Regions from separate parts of the Homo sapiens genome. Here regions 1 and 2 are each reported to be linked to region 3. The links are microRNA targets in miRTarBase. Many come from high-throughput screens and were not tested one by one. Region 3 holds a microRNA gene; each other region holds the end of a gene's coding sequence.

What was found. The annotated mature microRNA hsa-miR-1587 reads UUGGGCUGGGCUGGGUUGGG and lies in region 3 at 2,624-2,643, opposite strand. An mRNA with a match to its seed (bases 2 to 7 or 8) in the 3' UTR can be bound and repressed. Matches are read on the target gene's strand: a 7mer-m8 pairs with bases 2 to 8, a 7mer-A1 pairs with bases 2 to 7 and ends in A, and an 8mer does both.
Region 1: the mRNA of BARX2 is a reported target of hsa-miR-1587. Seed matches in the 3' UTR shown: 7mer-m8 at 734-740.
Region 2: miRTarBase lists SPTBN2 as a target of hsa-miR-1587. Seed matches in the 3' UTR shown: 7mer-m8 at 1,670-1,676, 8mer at 1,836-1,843 and 7mer-m8 at 1,948-1,954.

What each region holds. Positions count from the first base shown.
Region 1 is chr11:129,450,755-129,454,964 of GRCh38, forward strand. It overlaps BARX2 (BARX homeobox 2), which reads left to right. Exons shown (of 4, transcript NM_003658.5): 4 at 382-1,525. The coding sequence ends at 648. Among named protein-coding and RNA genes, the nearest start is that of BARX2, 77 kb to the left of the region's middle. RefSeq lists an enhancer at 2,563-3,064.
Region 2 is chr11:66,682,322-66,686,531 of GRCh38, reverse strand. It overlaps SPTBN2 (spectrin beta, non-erythrocytic 2), which reads left to right. Exons shown (of 38, transcript NM_006946.4): 37 at 92-134; 38 at 428-4,035. The coding sequence ends at 661. Among named protein-coding and RNA genes, the nearest start is that of RBM4B, 6.5 kb to the right of the region's middle. RefSeq lists an enhancer at 254-754.
Region 3 is chrX:39,835,995-39,840,204 of GRCh38, reverse strand. MIR1587 (microRNA 1587) reads right to left here and starts at 2,644; the gene lies at 2,592-2,644. RefSeq lists a silencer at 207-395.

The sequences.
Region 1 (4,210 bases), not on the chromosome of region 3:
CACACTTTCATACAGTGTGTTTTTTTTCCTGCTTGCTACAAATATTATTGTTGTCTTTTTAGCTTGTCAACTTGATAGTTATTGCATTAACATTTTAATTTTCATTTCTTTCCTTATTGTTGAAGTTGAATTCTGAAGCTGCCTATGATTGTTGTATTAAATGCCAAAATATATAATGTTGACCAAAAATGCGTTGAGCATTTAAAAAATGGAGGTGTCTTTGTAGACCAGAGGTGATGGGTTGAGAATATATTTTGCCAAATCCTGCAATTTCACTGCTGGAACAGATGGTTTAGATGCAACGTGAGGTTATACTGGGAGTGGAAAGGTGGAGGGAAGGAATTATTTCTTAGATTCAATAACAATTTTTTACTCACGTAGGTTCTTAAAGGTGGACAGGAAGCACCCACAAAACCCAAAGGTCGCCCCAAGAAGAACTCCATCCCCACATCAGAAGAGATTGAAGCTGAAGAGAAGATGAACAGCCAGGCCCAGGGTCAGGAGCAGCTGGAGCCCTCTCAGGGGCAGGAGGAGCTCTGTGAAGCACAGGAACCGAAAGCACGTGATGTCCCCTTAGAGATGGCAGAGCCACCAGACCCGCCCCAGGAGTTGCCAATACCCTCTTCGGAACCCCCACCATTAAGCTAAAGTAAAACCCTTTTGAGGGAAGAGGGAGACTGGGGAGAAGGGAAAAGAGAGAAGGCAGGGAGAGTAGGGAGAGAAAACCTTCCAGCAGCCCAGTAAACTGCGGGCGAAGAGATCTACCCGTCTCCCTCCCTCCCACAGTTACCATTGGCCTTGTCATCGCAAGCATTTGACAAAGACTTGCTTGTCTTGGGCCTGTCACCTCCTGAAAGGCTGCTTTAGCTGTGGATGCCCTTGATTAAGGGAGAGAGCGCCTAGGAGCTGCCTGCCCCAGCTGGGGTGACGGCTGTAGGGCTGGGTCTATGTTGCAAGCCCTATATCCTAGCATGCAGTGGAAAGTGCTTAGCTCTCTCCCTCCTGACCTCTGGGCAGCCAGTCATCAAAGCAGAGAGACGTGGCGGCATGTGGGCAGCATGCCCAGGTTCCTTGCTGACTCAGCACTTATTTCTGTAGTTTTAAAAAAGAATTTAATGTTTTTGGTTGTATTTTTTTGGGGGGGTGAGGGTGGGCAAAAACATGGGGGTAGTTCTGAGTTGTTAGAAATGTTTCTGAATCAAGTTTGTTTGAAGACACGTGTGCCTTTGTACCCATTATAAGATGGTCATAAGACCCAAGAACTGATAAGCTTTGGTTTTTTTTTTGTTTTGTTTTGTTTTTTGCTTCATTTACCCATTCATGCCTAGGGTTCCATTATTGGAACCCTAAGCTTGTGGGAGTTATTTCTATCCTACTGCTCAAGGTCATCACCAAGATCTGATTTTTCATAAAAAACATTTGTGACCTTCGGCATAAATGGGTTAAGGTGCCATCCCTGAAACTGCAATGCAGATATGTTCAGATAACTTTTATTTTTTAATTAAAAATAAATCTTTCAAAAGGATTGAGTGTTTTGTGTCTTCTGAGGAGTGTATCTAACCCTTCCTGAATGTGTCCTATGGGAAGAGAGATCCAGAGAGTGAACCAAACTAGGGGGGCCACCTTTTCCCCATCTATAAAACAAAGGATTGGGCCAGGCCATTGGTGTCCAAGTGCTGAGAGCTGTGGGAGTGGAACCGAGCCTCCGGGATGAGGACAGGGCAGAGTAGCTAGGCTCTCCCTTCCACCTCTCCCACCGCCTTCTGCCAGAGCAGCTCCCTTCTCAGCCGCTTCACATTTGGGGCGTCCAATGGTCTTACTTTTTTAAAGAGGTAAGAAATGTATATGCTTCAAAAGTCAAAACTATAAAAAAAGAAGTCTTGGGCTGGGAGCAGTGGCTCACGCCTGTAATCCCAGCACTTTGGGAGGCCCAGGCAGGCGGATCACCTGAGGTTGGGAGTTCGAGACCAGCCTGACCAACATGGAGAAACCCTGTCTCTACTAAAAATACAAAATTAGCTGGGTGTGGTGGTACATGCCTGTAATCCCAGCTACTTGGGAGGCTGAGGCAGGAGAATCGCTTGAACCTGGGAGGCGGAGGTTGCAGTGAGCCAAGATCATGCCATCGCACTCCAGCCTGGGCAATAAGAGCGGAACTCTGTCTCAAAACAAACAAACAAACAAACAAACAAAAAACAAAAAAAAACTTGCTTCCACCCTGCCCTCTCCTCCCCTGAATCCCCGGTAGGTAATTATTTTTATTGGTTTCTTGTTCATCTTTCCAGGGTTTCTTGACTAAGTATTCATTTGGATGATGGGCTCTGCAACTTTTAACAAAAGAAGACCTGAGAACTACTTGACTAGATGTGCTGGGTGATTTTAAATTTAAAAATTGTGTTCCACGTTAATTTAAGACCAAAAAGAAGGAGGCTCTAGATTTCCTAGCAGGAGGACTCTGCCTCTGTTTTTTTTTTGTCTGATTCTCATGCATTCTGGCCCAGAGCCTGATCTCAGAGGGGTCACCTTTATGATCACTGCCCCAGCGTGCTCACCTGTGATGGCTTACAGGGCCGAGTGCCCATTTAGTGGACTCTCAGTTATTAATTACACACAAACTCTGCCCAGTTGCAGGCTTGGAGAATACCAACTTTCAACAGTGGCCTCAACAAGGAAGCCAAATCTGTTACTACTTCTGTAAAACAATCACATAATTCATTTCAAAGTTAAACAGGAAAGATCCGCGTGTTTTCCATCACCTGGCAGGCCGCCTGCTTTTCTCCATTAACAATCAGAAAGTGACTGCAATTTTGACTTTGCCAAGGCAGTGCCTCATCCCCTTTGTTATTGAGATCAACAGAGAAAGCAGTCTTTTTCTTAACTCTTGTGAATAGACAAAGGAGGGGAGGATTTGGCTTCTGAGAACCAGTTTGAGCAGACCACACCTAGCTGCCTGTGCGAGGTTGCTTGCACCAAGCAGGCAGAACGCTGTCTCCTCCACCTGTAGCCCACCCCATGGTACAGTTTTATGATCTGCCTACCAGGTGGTGTCACAATGAGCCAAAGAATGTGCACAATGGCCAAAGTAAGCCGGTGGGTCAGTGTTAGTTCTGTGTCAATCCTAAGGAAGTGTTCTGTCCCATTCGCGCCACCCCAGAGAGGCCTCCTGTCTGGATGCTGGCTTCCCAGGATGGTGTTCCATCTCTTGCCCTGGGCTCCCATGATGTCCTTTTCTTTTTTTTTAAGTTCAGGGGTACATCTGCAGGTTTGTTACATCGGTAAGTTTGTGTCATGGGGGTTCGTTGTACAGATGATTTCATTGCCCAGGTATTTCAGCCTAGTACCCATTAGTTATTTTTCCTGATGCTCTCCCTCCTCCCACCGTCCTCCCTCTGGTAGGCGCCAGTGTATTTTTTTTCCCCCTCTATGTGTCCATGTGTTTTCATGATGTCCTCTTCTGAGGTGCCTGACAGTGACTGTCACCGCACAATATACGTGTCCATACACAGTGGTATTCCTGAGCGCTGGGTTCTGGGAGCTATTTCGGACCTCCGACTCTCACTCCTTGGCATGTGACCTGTGCTTTTGTGTCTTGCCTGTAGGGGTTGAATTCATTGGTGAAGGTAAGACCTCTGATGATCTTTCCTTGTGTTTTGGAGGGTCCAAGCCCAAGACTTGTCTTCCAGCCTCAGTTATGCGTAGCTTTGCCTGGTGACCCAGAGAGGCCAGGCTGGGCCTTTTAAAATGTTATTTTTTTAATTGACAAATAAAAATTGTGTATATTTATGGGGTATAACATGATGTTTTGAAACATGTATGCATTGTGGAATGGCTAAATCAAGCTAATTAACATATGCATGACCTCACATATTTATCTATGGTGAAAGCACTTAAAATCTACTCTCTCAGCAATTTTCATGTATACATAATTCACAATAGTCACCATGTTGTACAATACACCTCTTGAACTTATTTCTCCTAACTGAAATTTTGTACCCTTTGACCAACATCTCTCCAACCTCCCTCTACCCGCTACCGCTGGCAATCACCATTTTACTCTTTGCTTCTGTAAGTTCAGCTTTTTTAGATTCCACATGAAAGTAACCTAAACGCCCATCAATGATAGACTGGATGAAGAAAATGTGTTACATATACACCATAGAATACTATGCAGCCATAAAAAAGAACAAGATCATGTCCTTTGCAGGGACAT
Region 2 (4,210 bases), not on the chromosome of region 3:
CCTGGTGTTGGGTCATGATTACGCTCTCACCAGCAGCTACCTGGCAGATCCGGATTCTCAGCTCTGCCCTGTGGCCTCTCTCTCCCAACAGCTTACAGGATGGAAAAGAATATTTATTCCAGGCCAAGGATGAGGTGAGCTGTCCTTCGTGTTCCTCTCTGTCCGTGCCATTCCAGAAGCTTCCAGCTGCAGACTCCCCTTCTTTCCCTGTCCTCCCTCTTTTTCCTGGTCTTGTCCTTTGTGGTAAGACTGGATGTGTGCGACGGCCGCACCAGGCCGCACTCCCTGTCTAAGCCGGCCACATTCTCCTAATAGCATGAAACAGTCAGCTCACTTTCTGCCTCCTCCTCTTACACTTCCCTGCTGTCCACTGCGGCCAACTCAGCACAGTGTCCTTGAAGCTGATTGAGGGTCTTTCCATCCACAGGCAGAGATGAGCTCGTGGCTACGGGTGGTGAATGCAGCCATTGCCACAGCGTCTTCTGCCTCTGGAGAGCCTGAAGAGCCGGTGGTGCCCAGCACCACCCGGGGCATGACCCGGGCCATGACCATGCCCCCAGTGTCACCCGTCGGGGCTGAGGGGCCTGTTGTGCTCCGCAGCAAAGACGGCAGAGAACGAGAGCGAGAAAAACGCTTCAGCTTCTTTAAGAAGAACAAGTAGTTGGGGGCAAGGTCCCAGGCCAACTCCCTCCCTCCGTTCAGGAAACTGCCAGGGACAGTCGACAGGGACCGCCCTCTTGTCAGGACAACTGCCTGCTGCTAGGGTCTGTTGCCAAGGTCAACCCATCACCAGGAACTGTCACTGGGGACGAGTCCATGTTCCCAAGGGCAGCCCTTCTCTTCTGCTGTTTAATTCCAGACTGGTGGTGGGACCCAGGTAACCCCCTCTCCCACCCCCGCCGACTTCTCCCCTTTCCCCAGCCTCGTGCCTCTGTCCCTCACCACGGTGTGGACAGTGCCGCACCCTCAACATAGGCCATGTGGGGAGTGGCTGCCCCTGCCTCAGGGTCATTCTCCTGCCATGCGAGGGCACTCGCCTTCTGCCTTCTGGTTCCTCACCCCTCAGACCAGCCAGGAACCTCTCAGAGCTGAAGCAGGCCCTGGGGGCAGAAGTGCCAGATGACAGTCAGAGGCGCAGGAGCCCTCCCTCCCCACCCCCACCCTGTAACTCCAGCTGCCACTCCATCTCCAGCTGCTCTCAATGGCTTCCAGGTGTGTTGTTCGGGGACAGCCACCGCCTTGAGTCTGGCCAAGGAGGTGATTAAACAGCTCAGCTTCTCTCACCGCCTCTGGGTGTCTTTGCTTTCCTGACCACAGCCTCTCTGCCCAAGCCTGTGTCCTCTCCTTCCGTTCTGGTCTCCTTCATCTCACGTTTCCCCAGCCTCCAAGCTCTTGAAGAGCCGTGTCACACTGAGAGCTTCCCTGACCTGGTCTCATTTCCCTCTGACAGTGACCTCCAGTGTGCTGGGTTGACCAATGCCAAGCCTCTTTTTAAACCAAAGTAGTTCACCATGGGTTGGGATGATGTCAACAAGCAGTATTCATGTTAAAAAGCAATGAGGGACTCCTTCCCTGGTGCACAATTTTCTTCACTTGTGATCTCTAAACTGTTTTCAAATTGGAAGACTGGGAAGCATTGCTACAGCCCCAGCCAGTCTCAGCCACTGCTCAGCCCAGTGGTGGAAAGCTGAGCACACAGCGGGTGCTTACTGCCCCCACTTGCCGTCTGCTCTCCAGTAGATCAAGGGACCTCAGACAGGGATCTGAGAAGTGGCAGGTTCCAATAAACTGATCAACAGAATGAAGTCACTCTGGGAAGCCATGAGGTGACTTTACAGCCCAAGCATGTAAATATACACACAGAGGATAATATATATTCTTTTTTTTTTTTTTTTTTGAGACAGAGTCTCACTCTGTCAGCCAAGCTGGACTGCAGTGGCGCAATCACAGCCCATTGCAACCTCCACCTCCTGGGTTCAAGCAATCCTCCCACCTCAGCCTCCCGAGTAGCCTGAACCACAGGCACATGCCATCATACCCGACTAAGTCTGTTTGTTTTTTGTAGAGACGGGGTCTCACTATGTTGCCCAGGTCGGTCTCGAATTCCTGGGCCCAAGTGATTCTCTCACCTTGGCCTCAAACTGTTGGGATTACAGGCGTGAGCCACCATGCCCAGCTGAGACTACCTTCTGGATCTGATGAAGTATTAGAAAGGAGCGGGTGGCTTCTCCTTTGTCTCTGGTTTGGCAATCGGAGCTTTCAGGGCACAGTGTTTGTCTCCAGATGTTGATGGAAGTGGGCACTCCTTGGTGGCCTCCAACAGGAAAAGCGTGTTCTTTCATTGTTTCCTATACACACAGACAACCGTTTTTCCAGGAAGGCAGCCCCATCTTTAGTCATTGACTGCGGGCCTATCATCAGTCATGACGAAGACCGAGTTAGGTGTGTGCAGGCCCAGAACTAGCACATCACAGCCCCAGAGTGGGCTCCAAACCGGTAGACCAGAGAGCCTGCAGGATAATTTCCCCCTTAAGATGGGTAGATTTACTGTTCCACAGCCAACAGGTGGATACGCGTAACTAGAACAATCTGTCATGGGACTAAGTGGAAGAATCCATCAGCACTACACAGCATCTTTTCTTCAAATACAACTGTAAAATCTCCACTGAAGAGACAGTCATACCTTGGGGGTGCTCAGGGAATCTAGGTATTTGCACTCCAAGCTGGCAAGCCTGGGGGCACTGAAGGGAAACAATAATTGGAAATGTCAGAAGGAAATGTATATGGAGAAATTAATAGAGAAATGATTATTTTAACACGACACGTAAGTGTAAATAGGACAGCCAATTGAAGCAGTCCTGCAGTAGGGGCAGGCATTGTCAACGGAGAGGTGAGACTGAAGACCCCGAGCAGCATCTGCATATGCGGCAGCAGGACTTCAGGGCATGATTCCTTAAGAACAGGACATAGAAGAGGGGAAGCATAGTGTCAGGAATTAAGTCAGAAAACACCTTCAGCTGTGAGTGGAAGAAAGAAAAAATTCCAGGAAAGACAACAGGATGGAATGGGGCGGTGAGGGCTATGAGACAAGTTAGACACAAAAATACAATAAATGCAGGCAGCACAAATCAATGGAGAGAGATGGCAGATAAAAATGGATTACTTGGGCCGGGCGCGGTGGCTCACGCCTGTAATCCCAGCACTTTGGGAGGCCGAGGCGGGCGGATCACGAGGTCAGGAGATCGAGACCATCCCGGCTAAAACGGTGAAACCCCGTCTCTACTAAAAATACAAAAATTAGCCGGGCGTAGTGGCGGGCGCCTGTAGTCCCAGCTACTTGGGAGGCTGAGGCAGGAGAATGGCGTGAACCCGGGAGGCGGAGCTTGCAGTGAGCCGAGATGCCGCCACTGCGCTCCAGCCTGGGTGACAGAGCGAGACTCCATCTCAAAAAAAAAAAAAAAAAAAAAATGGATTACTTGGCCAGGCATGGTGGTTCACGCTTATAATCCCAGCACTTTGGGAAGCCGAGGTGAGTGGGTCACTTGAGCTCAGGAGTTCAAGACCAGCCTGGGCAACATGGTGAAACCCCATCTCTACAAAAATTAGCCAGGTGTAGTGGCATGTGCCTGTAGTCTCAGCTACTTGGGAGGCTGAGGCAGGAGCATTGCTTGAACCTGGGAAGCAGAGGTTACAGTGAGCCGAGATCATGCCACTGCACTCCAGTCTAGGCAATAAAGTGAGACCCTGTCTCAAAAAAAAAAAAATAGGATTATGTAGAGAAAAATATATTTGCATTCTTAACATCACCTACAAGAGTGGACTTTAGGTCCATGCTGTCCACAGCAGCAGCCACCCAGCCATGTGTGGCTACTGAGATGTAGCCAAACCAAGTGTGTCATGACTCTGAAACACCAGGTATGAAGCATGGAAGAGGACAACAACTTTAAATACCTTAATTTTTATATTGATTATGTGTTGAAATAATATTTTAGATATATTGGGTTTCAAAAGTATCATTAAAGTGAATTTCAACTATTTTGATGACTTTTTAAATGTGTTTGCTGGAAATTTTAAAATTGCATATGTAGCTAACATATTTTTATTGGATAGCACTGCTATAAATGGGCTCCAGACCTAAATGCAAAAGGCAAAAAATATGTTAATAGGCCGGGTACAGTGGCTCACGCCTGTGATCCCAGCACTTTGGGAG
Region 3 (4,210 bases):
CAGCAGCGGTAGCAGCACCGCCACCCCCCACACCCCCAGCCTGCTCTCCCCTCCCCCTCCATCCAGATTTGGTCATTGACCCTGGGAAGTGGGGAGCTATTTGTCCAGGTTTCTGAACCTGGAGGAAGGAGCCCATGAAGGCAAGCTCCTATTTGGAGCTTTAAAGCCAGGACAGATTTATCAGGGTCCTTTACTGCCCCCTCACCCCAGCCCTGTGTCCATGTACCTCTCTCCCCAGTTTACCAATGGCCATATTTCCCTAGCCAGGGGGAGGCCGGGAGCCCACCCAGAACCTCAGAGGGCCTGCAGCCTTCTCAGCTTGACTGGTAAAGGTGGCAGTTCATCTCTTCCATCCTCTGGGGCAGAACCCAAGCGAGGGAATCTCTAAGTGTTCCTCAGGGCCAGGGTGACATGCAGACTTCTGGGTCACCCCTTGTTTTCCTCCCTCCAGCCCTGTCTAAGAAAAAATAAAAAGGCAGAGACATTTTTGTTACCTCATGAACGAAAGAGAAAACATTATGTAACTGGTACATAGCAATAAATAACCAAGGGTGATGGAGTTGGGGAGTGGGAAGGGATGAGACCAATTAACTTGCAATAAACCAGCTGAACCAGGTAGGGGCAGTGTTCCGAGAGAGTCAACACGCAAAACCTGCCCCGGGGTGAGGGTGGGGGGGTCTGGCACCTGCTTAATCAGGTGTGTGCTGCGGGTCTGCTTGGGACACTGGAGGATGCTGGGTGGTAAAATCTGGCAAACTCAAGGGGATGTAAAATCAGAGGGGGACGATTTGGGGGTTCTGCTTCATGGAATAGGGTTGAAAGAATCAGTCATTGGTTTCCTAAGGATGCTTCATCCTGGAGGACTGCTGCTTTTAGACCACAAGAAGTCTTTAAAATGCTCTCTTGTTTCTATTTCCCCCGCAGATGGCATTTGAGGGGGAGAGGATAAGCCAAGGGAAGAGGAAAATCAAAATGCTTTCAGCAGCACGGCTTCCGCATGCTGGAGAGGTGGTGTATGGGGTTGCGGCTTGGCCTGTTTTCTGAAACCTGCAAGGTAGCACCCTGAAGGTAGCTTGTAACCCTCCACTCTCACACCAAGGTAATACCTCCTTCCTGTCTGGCCACCTGTCACAGCCAGTGGAAGTAGGGTTTGGAGGGATGGTTGGGACATCCTTACACAATGTTAGGTGGAGACTTAGTGATGGCTTCGGGGGAAGGCAGAGGGAGTCTCTCTTGCGTCAGGGGGGTGGAAGCACCGCTGCCATGATCAAGCCCTTTGGATGAAAGGAGGGCTGTGAGATTTGCTGCCCAGATGTGGGTTTGCAAATGACCTTGTTGGTCTGTTACCCTGGCCTAGCTCATAGAAGCTTTCTTCTCCTGTGGCTTGGGAGAGAGCCACCGTAAAAGACAAGCTGTGGCTAGTAAGCATCTTCTATGTGCTCTGGACTGTCTCATGCAAGAGCTAGGGCATAGGATCCTCATGATGGCCCTTCAAGAGGGGTTAATCTTGTCGTTGTTGCACTTCTATGAGGAAACAGACCATGTGAGGCTAAGTAACTTGCTCAAGGTCACACAGGGGTGATTGATGGGGTCACCCAGACTGTCTGACTCTTGTGTGGGTATGGCTGCCCTCCTTGTCAGCCGGCGGGGTATAGAGGCTGGCCCTCCATTCTTGATTTGCTCAGTAATGGGGGCAGGACAACTCCACCTCCTTCTTCCCAAAGGAAAGTTGAGCTCATTTTGGAAAGAAAGCAAACAGCCGTTCTCCTCTGGGGCTCTATCCGGGGACAGGGCAGAAAGGAAATCCAGTACACTGCGGAAGGAGTCATTTTTTGGCCTGGTTCTCACCACCCATCTCTAGTTCAAACCCTGCTTTTAGCATATCTGTGTTGATGGGGCAGGGCCTGGGAATCACGATTTGCCTTTAAGAAGTGGATGCACTTGGAGAGGCTGGCGCTTCCACCAACCAGGAAGAGCTGGGGGCACCCTGCTTGCTCTCCGAAACTTCACAGAAAGCCCCAAGAGCTGGGGATGTGGGTTCTGTTCTGGATCTCCAAGAGACGACGTCATGCTAGAATGTTCCCTTCATTTTTGAAAACTGCACTCCTGCCTGGGGCCATCTCGTGTCTTCAATGGCTAAAGTAGATGCTGATTTGGGCAACCAGCTTTCTTTTCTGTTTTGAAAATTAATGCACCTGTGTAGTCACCCAGGCTTGATAGTTGCAACAATAACTCATGGACAAGTTGTGTGACTGGTGGTAGTGACTCCATTTGCTCACACCTCCTTGGATTCAGTCCCTGGTGTAGTTCCCTCCCACACTGACTGTGGGTTTGGCCAGGTGACTTGCTTTGGCCAATGGGACACCATCAACCATGATTAGCAGAGGTTTGAAAAGTGCTTGTGCATTGAGATTTGCCCTCTCACGCTGTTCTTGGGACCCTTACAACTGCCAACATGTGAATGTGCCTGGGTTAGGCAGGTGGAGGTATGTGGCCCAGTCACCACTGCCACCCAGCTGACAACCAGCACCAACCACCAGACACACTGCATGAGGCCATCCTAGACCATTCGGTTCCCAGGTGACCTGCCAGCTGGTCACAGGTGAGTCCAGCAGAAGAACTGCCCAACCCAGCCCAGCCCAAATTGCAGATCTGCAGAATCATGGGCTGATAAATGATTGCTCTTTTAAGCCACTAAGTTTTGGGGTGTTTTTTTATTGTGATAAAATATGCATAACATAGCATTTACCATTTTAACCATTTTTAAACGTACAGTTGAGTGGCATTCAGTACATTCACATTGTGCTACCATCACCACCAGCCATCTGCAGAAGTTTTTCATCATTTGCCGGGGTTCTTTATATATCTAAGCTCACTCACTGATTCACAAGCTGCGGGGGCTGCCTGCACCTCCCTGACTGTCTTGCAGCTGATGAGCTTGTCTCTGAGTGGAGGCTCAGGCTCAGGCACCGAGCTCTGGAGTGAGGCCCAGTTCCAAACTGAAAGAGAACAATGTCCACGGGTCTCGGCTGTAGCCACAGTTTAACACAACCCTGGCTTCCCTCAGGCATGCTCACAAACGATCCTGTTCCTGTGGGTGCAGGGAAGACAGACAAGCAGGGTCTCCACAAGGGAGGCTGCAGACCACAGGCAGACCCGGTGACAGGGGACATGCTGGGACTTGCTGTTTAAAGAGCCACCACCAGGAACTTGGCACCTGACCTTGTGCTCAGGGGTGAGCTGTGACAGCTGCCACACCAGCCCTGCTGTCCTTGCCACTTCTAGCTGTGTGACTTGGGGTGAGTCACTTAAGCTTTCTGAGTCTGTTTTTTTCCCCCATCTGCTAACTGAATGTAATCGTAGTGCCATGTTTTAGGGCAAGGATTAGAGGAGCCAGTGTTGGACACACTAACAGTTGCTTCATTAATTAATATATGGGGCTGGCCAGGATCCCTATTCCCCCTGGCCCCAGACCCCTACCATCTTTCCTCATCCTTACTGGGAAGGGGCCTTTAGAAAGAAAAGAGACAAGGTCGGGCACGGTGGCTCATGCCTGTAATCCCAGCACTTTGGGAGATCACCTGAGGTCAGCAGTTGGAGACCAACCTGGCCAACATGGTGAAACCCTGTCTCTACTAAAAATACAAAAATTAGCTGGTCATGGTGGCACTCGCCTGTAATCCCAGCTACTGGGGAGGCTGAGGCAGGAGAATTGCTTGAACCCAGGAGGTGGAGGTTGCAGTGAGCCAAGATTGTGCCACTGCATTCCAGCCTAGGGGACAGAGCAAGACTCTGTAAAAAAAAAAAAAAAAAAAAAAGAAAAGAAAAGAGAAAGACTTTGTTAGCATCAGAAATTATGCTTTGAGAGGGATCTTCAGTATTAGCTGGAGAAACACTCATTTGTCTTTTAGATACTCACTTCTTGATATTCATGTTAGGACCCTGGGCTAGGCTGACAGTGTATATAAATAAATACGGGGGCTCTGGGAGAGGAGGGAGAGAGCAAGGGCATTTGGGGATGCTGTGGCAGACTGTTGTGTTTATTTTCTTCATCTTCTTATGTAATAGAACCCCTGATTTTTAGTTGGGCATACACTCATCTGGAATAAAGACAATGTTTCCCAGCTTCTCTTATTGCTAGGTATGGCTACATGACTAAATACTAGCCAATTTTATTTCATGTCCTGAGGCATCCTCCAGGAACTTCCTT